Regions from separate parts of the Homo sapiens genome. Here region 2 is linked to region 1. A link means that fine-mapping ties the variant in region 1 to the expression of a gene that starts in the linked region. Tissue or cell type: whole blood. Region 1 holds a variant in brackets; the other region holds the start of a gene. All regions are shown on one strand. Distances are between the middles of the regions.

Region 1 (5,000 bases):
AAAAAAAAAAAAGAAAAAAAAAAAGAAACTTCAGCATCCCCAAGATACACAGTATAGTGAAAACACAAATGGATTGGCAGTCAATGAGAAAAGAATCCCAGTTCTAATCATGCTACCATCTGTGAATGCTTATTAACCTGGGTTTTTTTGTTTTGTATTATTTTCAAATGAAGCATTTGGATTACAGCAGCATTTCCTAATCTAAACTATCCTGCATATCAAGCAAAGTATTTCAATTTCTCCACCATGAGCCAGGCACAGTGGCTTACACCTATAATCCTAGCACTTTGGGAGGCTGAGGGAGGAGGACAGCTTGAGCCCAAGAGTTTGAGACCAGCCTGGGCAACATGGAGAGAGCCCTGTCTCTACAAAAAATAAAAAATGACAAAATCAGTTGGGCATGGTGACATGCACCTGTAGTCCTAGCTACTTGGGAGGCTGAGGCAGGAGCATCTCTTGAGCCCAGGAGGTCGAGGCTGCAGTGAGCCATGATTGCGCCACTGTACTCCAGCCTGGGCAATGGAGCAAAACCTTGTCTCTAAAAAAAAAAAGGGCCGAGCATGGTGGCTTACGCCTGTAATCCCAGCACTTTGGGAGGCTGAAGTGGGCGCATCACCTGAGGTCGGGAGTTCGAGACCAGCCAGACCAACATGAAGAAACCCCGTCTCTACTAAAAATACAAAAAAATTAGCCAGGCGTGGTGGCGTATGCCTGTAATCCCAGCTACTCAGGAGGCTGAGGCAGGAGACTCGCTTGAACTGGGCAGGCAGAGGTTGCAGTGAGCCAAGATCACGCCATTGCACTCCAGCCTGGGCAACAAGAGCTAAACTCTGTCTCAAAAATAAATAAATAAAAATTAAAAAAAAAAAATTACCCTGGACTCTAATAGTAAAGAACAGAAATCCAGTGAGACCTGTGTCGGACTTCTGACCTCCAGAACTGAAGGATAATAAATGTGGTTTAAGTAAAGGAGAGAAGGAAGTGAAAAGGAACACAGCTGTAACAACTGTTGCCAAGGAGGTGGGCATTTGCTTTGGATCAGCTCCTTGAATTTGTGTTGGATGGGTCTTCTACAGTTGATTATAGCTGTTGGCCTCTGAACTTAGATGACTAACTGATTACCTGACCTTTAGGAAATTTCCACTAGAGGGCAGAGTGTCTCTAGATTTGAGGTAAACAGAGACTCAAGAAAAACAAAAAAAAGTAGACTCAATTCTTGCCTCAGTTTAGGAAAAAATCTGGCAACTGCAGCTCTAGTCAATAATGGCCCCGAAAAGTCAGGAGAGAGGGCATGCTCTGAGACAAACACAAGGGAACAGAAAGGAGAGCAGGAGGAAAGAGAACCACATTCAGATGGACATGCCTCACTGAATACTAGAAGCACAGATACACTTACATGCAAGAGATGAAACTGTCCAGCTCCCGCCAGGCATAGAAAAAAGGAAGGAGGTGAGGAAAGAGTGGAGAGTACAGGGTCTAATCCTTCCTGGACAGGTCACCTAGTCAGGAAAGAAAAGCAGGAGAGAACAGAGATGTCCAGTAGCTACAGCAAGATGCACAGGCACACTGAGCAAGTTCTGAGCCAATGGCAGCTATAAGGAATAATGATGCAGGAGATCATCAATATCTAGGCCACATTCCATCACTTGGTCCTAGTATCAGTACCTGCTCAAGCAGAGCCCCTCCCACTTGGGATTCTGTATTCCTTTAGGCTGAAATCCCTAGCCCTTTGACTACAGTCTGACTGCTTCAAAACTTGCAAAGTTCAATTATGAGTTTATCATTAAGTGGCACCTTTCTTTCGCTCTTGGCATAAGATGGGTATTTGAAACACTACATACCCATTCACTTAGGACACTTGCCTCATACACTAGTGGGGTGAGGTGGGTATTTAGTTCCTTATATAAACCATATCTTGAATATCACAGCATGGTCACCTTGTGGTGGCTTGTGAACTACCACACACCACTTCTAGGCAACTTAACAATCTGCTTTTATACAGTTTATATGGTTCTGCATATGATTTCCTTTGAAAAGGGCCCCATGTCAAAAAGAAAAATATGAAATCCACTGAAGCAGGTAGGTAAGGGGTAGGAAATGGTTGAGGCCATCTCTTAAAAAACTCTTAACCCTATCATCCTTTAACAAAAGCCATTCCTAAGGGACAGGAAGAAGGTAGAACTTTCCTCTTGCGTCTAAGTCACATCTTAAAAGGTAAAACAGGCAGGCCAGGTGC[G/A]GTGGCTCACGCCTGTAATCCCAGCACTTCGGGAGGCCAAGGTGGGCAGATCACAAGGTCGGGAGTTAGAGACCAGCCTGGCCAACATAGTGAAACCCCGTTTCTACTAAGAATACAAAAATTAGCCAGGCCTGGTGGCATGCGCCTGTAATCCCAGCTACTAGGGAGGCTGAGGCAGGAGAATCGCTTGAACCCAGGAGGTGGAGGTTGTGGTGAGCCAAGATCGTGACATTGCACTCCAGCCTGGGCAACAGAGCGAGATTCCATCTGAAAAAAAAAAAAAAAAAAGGTAAAACAGGCTTGGTGTGGTGGCTCACACCTGTAATTCCATCGCTTTGGGAAGCCGTGGTGGGAGGACTGCTTGAGGCCAGTAGTTGGACATTGGCCTGGGTAACATAGTGACACCCTATCTACAAAAAATAAGAAAATTAGCCAGGCGTGGTGGTGCACACCTATAGTCCCAGCTACTTGGGAGGCTGCAGTGGGAGAATCCAAGCCCAGGTGTGAGGCTGCAGTAAGCTATGATCATGCCACTGAACTCCAGCCTGGGTGACAGAGCAAGACCTTGTCTCTAAAATAAAAAAGGCAAAACACTTACCGAAGAGGCGAAGACTTTGGAGCCCTAGGCTTTTTGCTTGGCCTGCTTGAGTAGATGGGGCTCACCAGGTTTGATGGAGAGAGAACGTCTGTTGAGTAATCCCTATCTTCCATACCCAAAAGAAAGAAGCCATCTTTCATCCTCACCTTTCCCCTGATCAAGGCTTTCAAAGCAATCCGTGCAATTAGGTAGGACCAGATGACATGCAGAAGCTGTAGGGTCAGCAGCAGGCCATTGAGGAGCCACCATGAAGCATAAGGCCCGATTATCTCCCAACTCTCAAAGAGGGTCGTGTTCAGAATCCTAGAAGAGGGAGGCCAATAGTCAGATTCTAGAGTCAAAGCTCAGCAGACAGGGATGAAGCTGAGTCCTGGGGATGCAGAGCCCTGTGTGTTTTCCTACCAGCCCTTTTATCAGCTGAAGTTCCAGGGACCGTCATCCACAGTAAGAAAATAAAGAAAGGGAGGAGCCTGTTGTGTTTTCTATCCTTAGGGACAGAGAAAGATATATAAATCTTAGGAACTGATGGATTAAGTCACATTATTAATCACTTCAAATATCCAGAGTTTCACGAAATTAGGACAGCAGTGGGACTCTAATCCTATGAATGACTGAGCTCCTCAGGCACATATAGGATAGGACAGTAGGTAGCTGATTCCCATAGAGCAGTGAATGTAAAAGTGAAAGGAGACAGGGAGAGAGAGGAGAGGGAGGGAGGGAGAGAGAGGAGAGGGAGGGAGAGAGAGAGGAGGGAGGGAGAGAGAGGGGAGGGAGGGAGAGAGAGGAGAGGGAGGAAGAGAGAGAGAGGAGAGGGAGGGAGAGAGAGGAGGACAGGGAGGGAGAGAGAGAGGAGGGAGGGAGAGAGGGGAGGGAGGGAGAGAGAGGAGAGGGAGGAAGAGAGAGAGAGGAGTGTGTGTGTGTGTGTGTGTGTGTGTGTGTGTGTGTGTGTGTCAGGGTTGGGACCAGAGCAGGAACACAAGCAAGAAGGGACTGAGAATTGTATCAACAGTGCAAAAGAAGTCAAAGGAATTACTTAGGCATAAAATGAGGACTGTTCCTCAGAGATGAGTCAGTCCTGAGAAGCCAACCAAGCCGGGTACTCTGAGTCTGGATCCGACCTTGCTAGAAATACGGTCTGAGGCAGCAGAGGTCCTATGAGAGTCCACAGAAGGTCAGCACAGGCTAAGGTAAAAGCAGGGCAATAGGGTTCTTGTGTTCTATTGGCGAAAGTAGAATAGAATAGAACAGAAAAACTGAATGGGCAAAATGAGAATTGGCAAAAAGGTATCATTAGGCTCATACCTACCACAACTCTACAGCCCTACCACTTACCAGAATGGATAGATTCCTAGTCGTGTAACCATAAAAACAGCACTGAAGATCACAAAAAGGGTGTCACAGAGCCGCTGATACTTGGCATAATTGGCCAGTTTGGCTGCCTGGAGAAAGGAAGAAAGAATTGAGCTGGGGAGAAAGTCATTCCTCACATAGGAAGAAAAGAAGAGAAGAAGAAGATGGAGAAAGAGAGATTGGGTTTTTACCTCCAGCAAGAAGTCTGAGACATCATGTAGACACATGATCAGAGTTCCCACTCGAACCATATTGTTGATGTAGGAGAAGGAGATAAGCCCAATGGTGACCAAGTGATGCACAAACATGATCAGGAAGTCCTAGGAAGGAATGGAAATAGAAGAGGGAGGTAAAAGCTGGGCCCTAGAAACACCAGCCAACCCAACGTCCTGCATTATTCTCTAAGAATCTTACCCCACCCCATATAGAATAGTTTCCATTGGCCGGGCGAGGTGGCTCATGCCTGTAATCCCAGCACTTTGGGAGGGCAAGGTGGTCGGATCACCTGAGGTCAGGAGTTCGAGACCAGCCTGGCCAACATGGGGAAGCCCCGTCTCTACTAAAAATACAAAAATAAGCCGGGCTTGGTGGCATGTGCCTGTAATCCCAGCTACTCGGGAGGCTGAGGCAGGAGAATTGCTCAAACCTGGGAGGTAGAGGTTGCAGTGAGCTGAGATCGCGCCACTGCACTCCAGCCTGGGCGACAGACTGAGATTCCGTCTCAAAAAAAAAAAAAAAGTTTCCATTCTGCTTAGACTCTCCCTTGGCTACCTAGCATTTAACTGAACACTCCCTACATCAGTGACTGACCCATAC
Region 2 (5,126 bases), 77 kb before region 1:
GTCTAAAGTGGAGCCATGGCATTGCAGTTTTTTTTTTTTTTTTCTGAGACAGAGTCTCGCTCTGTTGCCCAGGCTAGAGTGCAGTGGCACGATCTCCGATCACTGCAACCTCTGTCTCCCGGGTTCAAGCACTTCTGCCTCAGCCTCCTGAGTAGCTGGGATTACAGGTGCGTGCCACCACGCCTGGCTAATTTTTGTATTTTCTGTGGAGGCAGGGTTTCACCATGTTGGCCAGGTTGGTCTCCTGACCTCAGGTGATCCACTCACCTCGGCCTCCCAAAGTGCTGGGATTGCAGGCGTGAGCCACCACGCCTGGCTGGCATTGCAGTTTTATCTTATTATTTTTATTTTTTGAAATGGAGTTTCGCTCTTGTCTCCCCGGCTAGAGTGCAATAGCACAATCTCGGCTCACTGCAACCTCCGCCTCCCAGGTTCAAATGATTCTCCTGCCTCAGCCTCTCGAGTAGCTGGGATTACAGGTGCCCGCCACCACGCCCAGCTACTTTTTGTATTTTTAGTAGAGATGGGTTTCACCATGTTGGCCAGGTTGGTCTCAAACTCCTGACCTCAGGCGATCCACCCTCCTCTGCCTCCCAAAGTGCTGGGATTACAGGAGTGAGCCACCGCGCCCAGCTGGCATTGCAGTTTTAAAAGCTCCCCAGGTGATTCGAATGTGCAGCCTGGGTTAAGAACCAGTGCCTTAGATTCTGCCCTGGTTTGGCTGCACTGGTGGTTTTACCACTAGATCCAAATGCTAATACTAATAATAGTTATTTACTTATTGGGATTTACTAGGTACATGCCAATGTACTAAGCACTTTCCATGCGTTAGCTCATGTAATCCTCGAAAAATCCTGTGAAATAAATATTATCTCTGCCTTACAGATGAGGAAACCGAGGTCCAGAGAGGTCAAGGGGCCTGCCTATGCTAATGAATGGCAGGGCCAGGTCTGGAAGCTGATTCTCCTGATTCATACCTTCTGTCTTCCCCCAGACTCCTCCTGAGGCTGCTCCTTGGCCTCAATCAGTCCTCGCCTGCCTCCACCTCACCTCATCACCTTCCCTCCACCCCCGCTGCTCCCTCAGTAACATCCCAGGTGACTGAAGCAATTGCAGCCATTTGAAGAGGCTCCACGTGTCAGTCAGCCTGCGAGCCGCGGGGAGGTGGGGAAATTACAGATGCTCCAAAATAGTGTTCCCCTCCCCCTGAGGATATTTGGAATTCAGGAATCAGACTCTGCCTGATGCTTCCTCAGGTCTCTGGGACCCTCCCAGGTGATTTCCCACTCTCAAATGCCCCCCACGAGTTGATTCTAAGTATCTGGGAGAGGGCTGCCACCCAGTGGCTGCCCGGGGGCATAGCAACCCTCCAGCACTGCCTGGTACCGCTGAACAGCTCCCCAAGACCTGAATGGAAGATCCTCCCTTCCTTTTGGCAGCTCCGTGTCCAGTCCCCTAGTAAATGGATCTCGACCTCCCTCCTCCACAATCTTAAGTCCACTCTCCCACTAGGGACCTCCAGACCCCTTCTCTGGTTTCCTAGATGTCCACTACTCCCAACTTCTCATCCAACTTCTTTCCAATGTGCCATCCCCTTCTCGTTACAGGTTTTCTTCTAACTTAAAGCCCGGCACCATGTCCTAGGAATACACCTCTCACCATCCTTCTCCCCGAGCCGCACCAGCCTGCAAGTAGAGCGAAGGAGCCACTAGAGACAGAACTCTGGTCCCCCGCACCCTCCTCCTCATCATCTGACACCATCAGACCTCAACAGCCTCTGTGCTAAGAGCCCCTAATGAGCATCAGCAAATTAACAACTTCCCCTTGATTGCTCCTTCTCTGTTAATTGGATAGGGAGGGCCCCCCTCCCCAAGGCCTCTCAGAGAAGAGGAGGGAGGCAGGGAAGGAGAAAGGTGAGAGCCACAGGAGCAGCCCCCAGGCCTGCGTTCTGTGCTGAGACTTCTGCTCCATCCCTGAGCATAGCTCCCCGTTCCAACCCTTCCTCACCCTGTCCCCTTCACTCCCTTTGCCTCCTTCCTTCTGTCCAAATTCCCTTGACCTCTGGCTATTTTTCCTTCCTTTTCTCTGCTCCTTCTTTGGAGATTTGGCAGTAAGGGGTTGCGACCATGCCCCCCACAAGCCCAAAGCTACAAGGATGGGATCTGAGTGGTCAAGGCTGCGTGTTGGCTCACATATGTGCACGTGTATATGTGTCACATGCAGGTGGGAGCAGGGATAAGAGCAGGTGAGTGCTTGCCATGTGGGTCAGGCCCCCGGGATACGTGGACATCTGTTGCGGGGGGGTGTGGTTGTGAATGGTGTGGTGTGACTCTGGTCGGTATGTGTGTCTGTCTCCATATGGGCTAAGTGCTTGAATTAGTCAAGTGTGACTCGGAGCGTGTGTGTGTATGTGTGTGTGTACGCGCGTGTGTGCCACCAGAGGAAGCAGCAGCAAGAGGCAGGAGCATCGATCCGAAGGAGACAGCGCGGGGAGAGGGACGCTAGGGGCAGACACCCTCCCTCCTGCGCGCACACACGCGCGCGCGCACACACACCACACACAGAGTCATACACACAAGCCATAGGGCCTCGCAGGCAGGGAGACGGCTCCGGGACTGGAGAGAGGCAGCGCCGCCGAAAGCGGCCGCGAGGAGGGGCGAGGCGGCGCGGGGAGCCCTGGGTCCCGCTCCCGGATCCGGGGCCCCGCGCGCACACCAGCCCAGAGACAGCCTCGCAGACACTCGTAGGCGCGCACGCGCACCCTCTCCCCTCCCCCTCCCCTCCCGCCGCCTCCCGGCCGGACGATGGATCCCTGCAGATCCCAGGGCTGAGAGCACCGCGCACCGCGCCGAGCCCGGGCAGACCGAGCCGAGGCGAGCGAGCCAGCGAGCCAGCGCGCGCGGGCGGGCGGACAGATCGGAGCCGAGCGGGGCCGGGCGGGGCGCTCCCTGCAGGGCTCTGCGCGGCGTGCCGCGGCGGCCGCGGGCTCCGGCCCCGGGCCATGAGCCCCTCCGCGACTCGGCGCTGAGCCCGCCACCGGTCCAGCGCCCCAGGACCCGCCGCCGGCTGCCGGCTTGCCGAAGCCCCCTCAGGTGGGTTTCCGATACCCCTGCCTTTGGCCGCGAGGCTCCTCGGTACCCCGAAGCCGGGACTCTCCTCCCTCTGGATTTCCCTTGCTGCTGGGGCGGCTCGGTGGCTGGGGAGGGGGGCGGGGGCCGAGCTGGGGATCTGACTGCGACGAGAAGCTGGACTGGGGGGGGCTGCGTCCGGGGCGGGGACAGCTCGCTGTCATAGGGAACCGCGCCCCCCCTCCATACATCCACCTCGGGCAGCCCGCCACCCCCCACTCCCAACATACACACAGCCTGCGCTTATGTGAGAACTGGAGACACCCGCAGGTGAGGACTCAGGCTGGGCCCCTCCCTAGATGTAGCCACCTCCCTGGGGGTTTTCTGGCCCCAGTTTAGCCCTTAGGACCACAGCCCCGTCCAGGGAATACCCGTGACCAGGACAGGAGCTCCTTACCCCGGGGTCAGCCCATCTGGGTGAGTTTTCATCTCCAGGATGGGGTGGATATTCTTGTCCCAGAGTGACCCCACATCTGGAGGGAACTCCTGCGCCTGCCTATGGGTGCATCAGGACTTCCCCCTCAACCTCGGATGACTATATCTGGGGTCTCCCCGGGCCTGGGAAGCTTCTCTGGGGAGCATTCTCTTGGCCTGACCTGACCCCCTGTGCCTCTGTATTTGGAGGAACCCTGGATGTGTCCCTTGGTCAGCCACCTCTGGGCTTGCAAAGCAGGGAAGTCTTCTGCCCGAGGAGTGGTGACCTCTGGAGATGAGGATTCTGGATGGGCACATGTGGAGGGGCTCCATGTGTACTTTCATCCCAGGACAATGATAGACTGTCCCTCCCTCCTCCCCCAGGATCCCCTCAACAAGGATGGAACTGAAGGCCGAGGAGGAGGAGGTGGGTGGCGTCCAGCCGGTGAGCATCCAGGCCTTCGCCAGCAGCTCCACACTGCACGGCCTGGCCCACATCTTCTCCTACGAGCGGCTGTCTCTGAAGCGGGCACTGTGGGCCCTGTGCTTCCTGGGCTCCCTGGCTGTGCTGCTGTGTGTGTGCACGGAGCGTGTGCAGTACTACTTCCACTACCACCATGTCACCAAGCTCGACGAGGTGGCTGCCTCTCAGCTTACCTTCCCTGCTGTCACGCTGTGCAACCTCAACGAGTTCCGCTTTAGCCAAGTCTCCAAGAATGACCTGTATCATGCTGGGGAGCTGCTGGCCCTGCTCAACAACAGGTGGGTGGCTCCCACCCTCCCTCAGCCCTGCTCCTGGAGTTGCTTGAGTTCCAGTCAGGATGTCTGCCTCCCTGACCCACCATAGAGCCCAGCCAACCCTGCCCTTTAACCCACCCCCACCCCCAAACCTGCCACTCACAGCAGAGGAGTTAGGGTGCTGCTGAGCACCCAGTTAAGGGCACCCAGCCTCCGATCCCAGCATAGTCCAGAACAGCTCGACCCCCACCCAGCCTGAGGTATGAGACATTGTCACCCTCTCTGGAGTGAGCTTTACCTTCATTCTGGCCACTCTGTCTTGACCTTCTCGTCAGTTGGGGGATGGGGACAGAACATCTTTAAAGGGTAGAAACTACAGTATAAAAGCCACAGCCCCTGCCTTGTCTCTCTGCCCACCTTATCCATGCTTCCTCTCACCCATGTGCTGGGATGGGATGCCCTGCCCCTGGGCAGCCACTACAGTTCCTCCTGTCATTTCAGACCCATGTGGTAGAGCCTCTGCATGCCCAGCTCTCCTTCCTTGCCTACACCTGGGACTGATCCCCAGGGCTGGAGGCTGCCCCCATCACCCAAGTTGGGTGCAGGACACTGATGACTGTACTGACCCGTGTGTCACTCACCCCCGGACCCCAGGTATGAGATACCAGACACACAGATGGCAGATGAAAAGCAGCTGGAGATACTGCAGGACAAAGCCAACTTCCGCAGCTTCAAACCCAAACCCTTCAACATGCGTGAGTTCTACGACCGAGCTGGGCACGACATTCGAGACATGCTGCTCTCCTGCCACTTCCGGGGGGAGGTCTGCAGCGCTGAAGACTTCAA

What was found. PIP is the estimated chance that this variant, and not a neighbour inherited with it, causes the effect.
Region 2: ASIC1 starts here. The variant in region 1 is fine-mapped to the expression of ASIC1 in whole blood (TOPMed, PIP 0.95).

The regions. Positions count from the first base shown.
Region 1 is chr12:50,131,566-50,136,565 of GRCh38, forward strand. It overlaps CERS5 (ceramide synthase 5), which reads right to left. Exons shown (of 10, transcript NM_147190.5): 7 at 4,376-4,504; 8 at 4,167-4,273; 9 at 2,981-3,137. Among named protein-coding and RNA genes, the nearest start is that of COX14, 22 kb to the left of the region's middle. The variant G/A (reference allele first, on the strand shown) is at 2,237.
Region 2 is chr12:50,054,825-50,059,950 of GRCh38, forward strand. ASIC1 (acid sensing ion channel subunit 1) reads left to right here and starts at 2,772. Exons shown (of 12, transcript NM_001095.4): 1 at 2,772-3,092; 2 at 3,927-4,304; 3 at 4,935-5,126. The coding sequence starts at 3,943. RefSeq lists silencers at 2,575-2,734, 2,805-2,974.